Linked DNA regions of Homo sapiens: region 2 is linked to region 1. The links come from fine-mapping of genetic effects on gene expression. A gene starts in region 1. The other region holds a variant in brackets. All regions are shown on one strand. Distances are between the middles of the regions. Region 1 holds the start of KCNQ1 (potassium voltage-gated channel subfamily Q member 1). Region 2 overlaps KCNQ1 (potassium voltage-gated channel subfamily Q member 1).

Region 1 (4,383 bases):
AGTGATGAGGAGTGCACCTGTGCCTGCTGCCTCTCCCACAGAGTTGCCATCAAAAGTCTGGATTTTTGCCAATCTGATAAGCAAGCAGTGGTATCAGAGTGTACTTTTCATTTGCATTTTTCTTGTTATAAATGAGGTTGAACATTTTTTCATAAGTGCAAAGGTCATGAACCCCATTTCCTATGAACTGCTCATGTCTTCTGCTCCCTTTTCTATAGGACTGTCTGGCAGGTTCCTCACCTCAGTTTTGATGTTCTTTATGTATCAGTGATATTAATCCTTTGTGATCGAAACTGCAAATACTTTTCCCATTTGGTCATTTGTCTCCTTTACTTTGCTAATGGTGCTTCTATTTTAATTTTTCTTATTTTATCTGTTGCTTTTGGATTTCAAGTCATAGTTGGAAATGTTTTCCCGATTCACAGGTTCTTGAGGAATTGACCTGTACATTCTTGTAGAATTTGCATGGCTTCATCTCACCCTTTACACTTGAGCCTCTGATTCATTTGAGATTTATTCTCGTGTGCGGTGAGATGGACCCAAGGTATGCTTTTTCTTTCTTTATGACTGTCCAGTTGTCCAAACGCTGCTTATTCAAAGCTCACCTTCCTCCTGCTGAGGTGGGAGGGGAAGGCAGAGACTCCATGCAGGTGTATGTATGTTCACCCGGAAAGTAACTGCTGAATGCGTGCTGTGTGCCCTGCAGAGCTGACTGACTGCCCCCATCTTCTGACCCGCTGCCCTTCTGCACCTTCACTGATATGCTTCCCAGGAAGGTACCCTCTCCTCGGCCTCCCTTGTGTTATCACAGCGCCCAGCACAAGCTGGGACCCACTCCATCCACTCTTGCTGCAAATACAGACTGTGCACTCCTGTGTGGCACCTCACTAGGGTGGGGAGTCAGGCGTCAAGGGCCTGGGCTGGACTCCGTCCACGATAAAAGAGCAGACTTTTGGCAGGGGGTGGTAGATACATCAAATTGACCCAGGGTGCTCAGGGACGACCTGGAAGTGTCACATGAGTTATGGGTCTCCTGGCGGGGCGGAGAGTCACCGCTGAGCTCCACCTTTAGTCCCTGCCTCAGGGCTGTGTGCAGTATCCTGAAAAAAGCCGGTCTCTTCTGTTGGCTGCCCCCCACCCCCCCCCCAAGCCTGAGACGTGCTGAGACCCAAATGCCAGTAGCGGGCGGGAGGCAGTGCAGAGACCTGTGAAAATCTTCCGATGTGACCAACCCACCCCCACCCAGGGGAATCCACGGGGCGCAGCGGCAGCGCGGTCTCGACGGTGGGGAGGACAAGGCGCCCATTCTCCAAGTTACTAGGGTGGCGCAAGCGCCTCTCCCTTTAACTGCCCAGGCAGCCCCGCCTGCTATGCCCGGCAGTCAAACCAGGTCCAGACCCCGGCTGTGCCGCCCCCACCCCCCAGCAGCCCTGCCGGCTCCCCACCCACACAGCTCCCACTGGGAGGTACCTGACAGTGGTGGTCCCATCTCACCCTCCCGGTCCAAGGGCCCTGGTGGGAAGCGACCCGAGCGTATTCGCCGCCCGCAGCTCGCGCGCCTGGGCACCCGGGGGCGCTCACAGTGATCGCGGGGCCAGCACACCCTCACCCAGGACATCCCTTTCCTCCCCCCAACCCCAACTCCGGAGTGGCTCAGAGGGAGGGAAAGTAGATGCCGGCACCCTACCCCGCCCCTCCTGCCCCCGCTGTGCCGTTCTCGGTCGTGGTATCGGCCAGGCCTTACCCCTTCCTCCCTGGCGCAGCTGGGGTCCTCCTCCGGGCCAGGCAGAGCAGGCGGGCATCAGAAGTGGGGGCCAAGCAGGTGGGTGAGGGCAGGGCAGGAGCAAGCAGGGGAGATGCAGACGGGGCGGGGCCAAGCAGGTGGGTGAGGGCGGGGCCAAGCAGGTGGGCGGGGAGGGGGCGGGGCCAGGCGGGGTAAATGCACACTGGAACGGGGCCAAACAGGTGGGCGAGGAGGGGGCGGGGCCAAGCGGGATAGATGACACGAGCGGGGCTAAGCAGGTGGGCTCGGGCGGGGGTGGGGGTGGGGGCGGGGGCGCAGGCGGGGGCGGGGGCGCGGACAGGCCAAGCCAGGGGGTGAGGCGGAGGCAGGGCCAGGCCGGTCCGTGGGGAGAGGGCGGGCCAAGCCGGTGGGCGCGGGCAGGGACGCCCTGTGCGCGCCGGACCGGCGGGGGCGGGGCGTGCAGGCGGGGGCGGGGCACGCCGTCCCATGGGACCGGCCCTCGGCCACTGCCCCCTCCGGCCCCGCCCCGAGCGCCCGGGCTGGGCCGGCAGCGGCCCCCCGCGGCGGGGCTGGCAGCAGTGGCTGCCCGCACTGCGCCCGGGCGCTCGCCTTCGCTGCAGCTCCCGGTGCCGCCGCTCGGGCCGGCCCCCCGGCAGGCCCTCCTCGTTATGGCCGCGGCCTCCTCCCCGCCCAGGGCCGAGAGGAAGCGCTGGGGTTGGGGCCGCCTGCCAGGCGCCCGGCGGGGCAGCGCGGGCCTGGCCAAGAAGTGCCCCTTCTCGCTGGAGCTGGCGGAGGGCGGCCCGGCGGGCGGCGCGCTCTACGCGCCCATCGCGCCCGGCGCCCCAGGTCCCGCGCCCCCTGCGTCCCCGGCCGCGCCCGCCGCGCCCCCAGTTGCCTCCGACCTTGGCCCGCGGCCGCCGGTGAGCCTAGACCCGCGCGTCTCCATCTACAGCACGCGCCGCCCGGTGTTGGCGCGCACCCACGTCCAGGGCCGCGTCTACAACTTCCTCGAGCGTCCCACCGGCTGGAAATGCTTCGTTTACCACTTCGCCGTGTGAGTATCGCCACCGGCGACGGCCGGCACGAAGGTGCTTCCTGAGAGCTGGTGTGGGGGAGCTCTGTCCCAGCGCCACCTGCCCCGTCGGAGCTGCGACCCCGGAGCAGAGGAGGGAAGGAAGTGGGGAAACGCAGAAACACAAACTCTGCACTCTCCCTTGAAGTTCAGAGGCGCTGCTGTGTCTGGGGGTGCGCATCTTCTCGCAGGCCCGGCGTGGGGAGGGAGCCGGCTGGGGAGGGGACCACCTGGAGCCCAGAATTTGGCTCCACACCTCCGGGAGGGTAGTCCAGGTGTGAATCCTTCTGGGAAGAGAAGCGTGCTGGGGAGCGCACCCTTGGGTGCAGTAAGATAACTCCTCAAGGTCGGCTGAGACTCGAGGCTCAGGAGCCCCCAAGAGAGAAGGCCCCTGATGTCCGGTGCCGCATCTCAGACCCCCTGAGGCCCAGGTGGACTCTGGGGCAGGGGGCTGTCCAGGATAGGAAGGTGACGGTGGCGGTGCTCCCTGAGGGCTCAGCATGCCACGGGCCGTCCCCACGGGCCCCACATTAACTAATTGAACCAAGCTCATGAAAACCTGGCTTGATGCAGAGAGCGGAGAGGCACGTTTGCAGCTCTCACTAAGAGGCAGCTGTGCTCCCGGAGAAAGCAGCGCTGGTAGCAGAGGCACCTGGCCCCCCTGTTACCAGGTGGTTCCAATTCCCGGTACAGCGTGCCTGAGCAGGGCTGGGCACTGGATTTCTCAGGGACAGGCCTGGGAAGTCACCTCCGGGAAGGTCCAGGCTGCTCTCCTCCATGCCTGCCTGGGGCCTTCCCCCGCTGCCCCAGTGGCCCTACTTCCTGGCTGCCCAGCCAGCGGCCTTTTGGTGTGGTGCCAGCCTCTGGCCTGGGAGCCTCTACCCAGACATCCCATGGCTGATGGCTGTGGGGCTCACCTGAGGGCTGAAGGGTGGTCTCCCTGAGCGTCCTCAGGTGGAAGCATCTCCTCTGCCTCGGGCAGGCTCAGTAGAGAACTGGCTGGAGGGCATCCAGAGGCCTGTCCATGCCTGCTGGCAGCTGCCACCAGGGCCTCAGGGCGGGTGACAGCAGGAGCCAGGCCCCAAATGGCTTCAAGCATCGTCTCAGGTGAGGGGGTGGGGTAGGGGTCGCAGGGCTACTGCCTTCCTTGCTAAGAGGTGGCCTTCCACATCAGGAAGGGGAAGTCTTACCCACCTCCCTCCTCAAAGATGTGGTTGGGGGGTGATCTTGGAGACTTTTCCCCACCCCAGCTCCCAAGCCCCTGTCTCCTGACATGTCAGTGGGTGCCTGAGCCACAGCCGCTGCTGGTCTGTGAGAGGAGCTGGCTCTGCTCGTGGCTGCAACAGCGGGGGCTCGGCTTGGGGTTTGGGAGATATTTGTGTGCAGTGACCCCAGGGGAACCCAGTCCGATGCCACTGTGCAAATGTCTAGCAGATGCCAGGTTCACAGGTGCTGTGTGCTGGTGGCCACCTGCCTCCCGGACCCCAGACTCTCTGAGATGTCCAAGGGTGGGAAGACCTCCTCAGCCAGAGGCCAAGGCAAAGTGCCCGCAGACCCCCTCAATTCT
Region 2 (4,383 bases), 35 kb after region 1:
TAGCTGTGAACAAAGTGATCTCTCTGCTGCCTCACTAGCAGAGAGAAAAGAAAACTACAGACCAGTGATATGTACACAGAGAGCAATGAAAATCCTCATTATGATGGCAGACTAAACCCATAGTGTGTTAAAAATGACCACACATGTAGGCTAGGCACAGTAGTTCATGCCTGTAATCCCACCACTTTGGGAGGCTAAGGTGGGAGGATTGCCTGAGCTCAGGAGACCAGCCTGGGTGACATAGTGAGACCCCATCTCTTTTTATTAAAAAAAAAAAAAAGACCATACATACACACATGCACACACAACAGTGGTAATGGATTATAATTCATGAAAAAAGAATCTATGCATCCACAGGGACACACCCATGTATATAAACAAATAAGTGGAAGAAAGGAATCCAGTTCTCACGTTAGAATCAACAGGGCTGGAAGGCCATCAAGGAAACCCCGTGGCAGGGGCAGGGGTTCAAAGAGCTGGTGGTTGTAGTCTCAGTGTCTCCCACCACCACTTACTAGTTACAAAGGAAAAAGAATCACTTTCTAGAGGCAAAGCTGGCGACACCACCCGAGCCAAGTGATCCAAGTTAACATCACCAGGAATGGGACAGGCCAGCTTCACCACCCTCCGGATGGACAGCCTCGGTAGCAGAACTCCTGCCAAAGACACAGCTGTCCAGGGTCGAATCATCCGGAGACACAGGGCAAACCCACATGGAGGGAGACACACACAGTGGCCTGAATACTTTGAAAATGCCAGGGCCAAAAAACGTAGAAGGCTAAATAAAGTACCGTTCAGGGTGAAGGGGAAGGAAGAAATGTGATGCCTAAGTGGGAGTCTATGATTCCACTATGTTATGTATTAGTCCATTTTCAAATTACTGATAAAGACATACCTGAGACTGGATAATTTATAAAGGGAAGAGGTTTAATTGACTCACAGTTCCACATGGCTGGGGAGGCCTCACAATCACAGCAGAAGATGAAGGAAGAACAAAGGAACATCTTACATGATGACAGGCAAAGAGATAATGAAAACTGAGCACAAAGGGTTTCCCCTTATAAAACCATCAGATCTCGTGAGACTTATTCATTACCATGAGAACAGCATGGAGGAAACCACCCCCATGATTCAATTATCTCCCACGAGGTCCCTCCCATGACACGTGGGAATTATGGGAGCTACAATTCACGATGAGATTTGGGTGGGGACACAGCCAAACCATATCATTCCACCCCGGCCCCTCCCTAATCTCATGTCCTCACATTTCAAAACCAATCATGCCTTCCCAACGGTGCCCCAAAGTCTTAACTCATTTCAGCATTAACTCAAAAATCTGCAGTCCAAAGTCTCATCTGAGACCAGGCAAGTCCCTTCCACCTATGAGCCTGTAAAATCAAAAGCAAGTTAGTTAATTCCTAGACACAATTAGGGTACAGGCCTTGGATAAATACACCCATTTGAAATGGGAGTAATTGGCCAAAACGAAGGGGCTAAAGGCCCCATGCAAGTTCGAAATCCAGTGGGGCAGTTAAATCTTAATGCTCCAAAATGATCTCCATTGACTCCATGTCTCACATCTAGGTCATGCTGATGCAAGAGGTGGGTTCCCATAGTCTTGAGCAGCTCTGCCCCTCTGGCTTTGCAGGGTACAGCCTCCCTCCTGGCTGCTTTCACAGGCTGGCATTGAGTGTCTGCAGCTTTTCCAGGCACATGGTGCAAGCTGTTGATGGATCTATCATTCTGGGATCTGGAGGACAGTGGCCCTCTTCTCACAGCTCCACTAGGCAGTGCCCCAGTGGGGACTTTGCATGGGGGCTCCAACCCCACTTTTCCCTTCCTCACTGCCCTAGCAGAGGTTCTCCATGAGGACCCCACCCCTGCAGCAAACTTCTGCCTGGACATCCAGGCATTTCCATACATCTCTGAAATCTAGGCAGAGCTTTCCATACCTCAATTCTTGACTTCTGTGCACCCACAGGCTCAACACCACATGGAAGCTACCAAGAGTTGGGGCTTGCACCCTCTGAAGCCACAGCCCAAGCTGTACCTTGACACCTTTTAGCTATGGCTAGAGCGGCTGGGACACAGGGCACCAAGTCCCTAGGCTGCACACAGCATGGAGGCCCTGGGCCCAGTCCAGGAAACCATTTTTGCCTCCTAGGCCTCTGGGCCTGGGATGGGAGGGGCTGCTCCTAAGGTCTCTGACATGCCCTGGAGACATTTTCCCCATTGTCTTAGTGATTAACATTTGGCTTCTTGTTACTTATGCAAATTTCTGCAGGCTGCTTGACTTTCTCCTCAGAAAATGGGTTTTTATTTTCTATCACATTTTCAGACTGCAAATTTTCTGAACTTTTATCTCTGTTTCCCTTTCAAAACTGAATGCTTTTAACAACACCCAAGTCACCTCTTGAAAGCTTTGCAGCTTAGAAATTTCTTCCACCAAATACCCTAAATCATCTCCCTCAAGTTCAAAGTTCCACAAATCTCTAGGGCAGTGGTAAAATACTGCCAGTCTCTTTGCTAAAACATAGCAAGAGTCATCTTTAAT[C/A]CACTTCCCAAAAAGTTTCTCATCTCCATCTGAGACCACCTCAGCCTGGATTTCATTGTCCATATCATTATCAGAATTTTGGTCAAGCCCTTCAACAAGTTTCTAGGAAGTTCCAGACTCTCCCACATTTTCTTGTCATCTTCTGAGCCCTCCAAACTGTCCAACCTCTGCCTCTTACCCAGTTCCAAAGTTGCTTCCACATTTTTGGGTATCTTTACAGCCGCACCCCACTCCCAGTACCAATTTACTGTATTAGTCCATTTTCATGCTGCTGATAAAGACATACCTGAGACTGGGTAATTTATAAAGGGAAGAGGTTTAATTGACTCACAGTTCCACATGGCTGGGGAGGTCTCACAATCATGGCGGAAGATGAAGAAAGAGCAAAGGCACATCTTACGTGGCAGCTGGCAAAGAGAGAATGAAAACAGAGTGCAAGGGGTTCCCCCTTATAAAACCATCAGATCTCATGAGACTTAATTCACTACCACGAGAACAATATGGGAGAAACTGCCCCCATGGTTCAATTATCTCCCACTGGGTCCCTCCCACAACACATGGGAATTATGGGAGCTACAGTTCAAGATGAGATTTGGGTGGGGACACAGCCAAACCATATCAGAGTTGAATCCTGTCTGGGAAGAGATGGCTGCAATAGCCAGTGTCTGGGCAGCTGATGATGTGAGAGTGTGAGGTAGAGAACTGTAGTGTGCAATAGAGACCTGTAGTGTGCATGTCAGTGTTGTTTCCCGATTTTGACAACAGTACCACATGGTTACAGAAGAGAACACCCTTATTCCTAAGAAATCCATGAGGAGGCGTTTAGCAGAAAACAGGCATGGTGTCTCCAAGGGCTCAGAAAGATTCAACCAAAAGAGGGAAGTCTGGAGAGGGACAGGATGGAGCAGGACGGGGGCAGTGTAGAAACCGCAGGCAAGTCTAAGCAGAGCACGTTTGGGAGTTCCTTCTGCTATTCTTGCAACTTCTCTATAAGTTTGAAATGAAATCATATAAATCGAAAGTTAGAAGAGAATTACCACATCATGTTGGATTTCACTCATAGCCACGAGAACGGGTGGTGGTCTCTTCTGCAGTGAACTGATGCGATGTGTGATGTCACTAGTTCTCATCCAAAGCAGATGACAATTCCAGTTACTCCTCACCAGACATAAGAAAATGCTTTTAGTAGATCAGTTTTTCTGATTGTAAAGTTCAGAAATGTTAATCAGAGAACGTGCAGAAATTTTTAAAGAAGAAAAGTAAAATGACTCATCGTACCAAAAGCCAGAGATGCCAGCTTTTAGTTTCCTGCTAGTCTTTTTCTCGGCGTGTGTGTGTGCGCGCGTGCATGCACATGTTTCTACTTGGTCTTTGTGTGTGTGTTAAGGGCGTGTACACACACAGTGCAGTCAGGAGTGAGTTGCACGTCTACAGCTAGGCTGCTTCCCCGAGGCTGTGTGGCCATCAGCCAGGCGTCCCCAACCCCCAGGCCATGAAGCACTACCAGTCCATGGCCTGTTAGGAACCAGGCTGCACAGCAGGAGGTGAGTGGCAGGTGAGCAAGTGAAGCTTCATCTGTATTTACAGTCACTCCCCATCACTCGCATTACCGCGTGAGCTCTGCCTCCTATCAGATCAGTGGCGGCATTAGATTCTCACAGGGGTGTGTACCCTGTTGCAAACTATGCATGTGAGGGATCTAGGTTGCCTCCTCTTTATAAGAATCTAATGCCTGATGATCTGTCACTGTCTCCCATCACCCCCAGATGGGACTGTCTAGTTGCAGGAAAACAAGCTCAGGGCTCTCACTGATTCTACATTATGGTGAG

What was found. PIP is the estimated chance that this variant, and not a neighbour inherited with it, causes the effect. A credible set is the group of variants that fine-mapping cannot tell apart.
Region 2: its variant is the best candidate, but not a certain one, in a credible set for the expression of KCNQ1 in whole blood (TOPMed, PIP 0.76).

Annotation. Positions count from the first base shown.
Region 1 is chr11:2,442,687-2,447,069 of GRCh38, forward strand. It overlaps KCNQ1 (potassium voltage-gated channel subfamily Q member 1), which reads left to right and starts at 2,322. Exons shown (of 16, transcript NM_000218.3): 1 at 2,322-2,798. The coding sequence starts at 2,413. TRPM5 (transient receptor potential cation channel subfamily M member 5) reads right to left here and starts at 1,828. Exons shown (of 29, transcript NM_014555.4): 1 at 1,745-1,828. RefSeq lists silencers at 2,122-2,231, 2,242-2,311.
Region 2 is chr11:2,477,469-2,481,851 of GRCh38, forward strand. The region is part of intron 1 of KCNQ1 (potassium voltage-gated channel subfamily Q member 1); the gene reads left to right. Among named protein-coding and RNA genes, the nearest start is that of KCNQ1, 35 kb to the left of the region's middle. The variant C/A (reference allele first, on the strand shown) is at 2,555.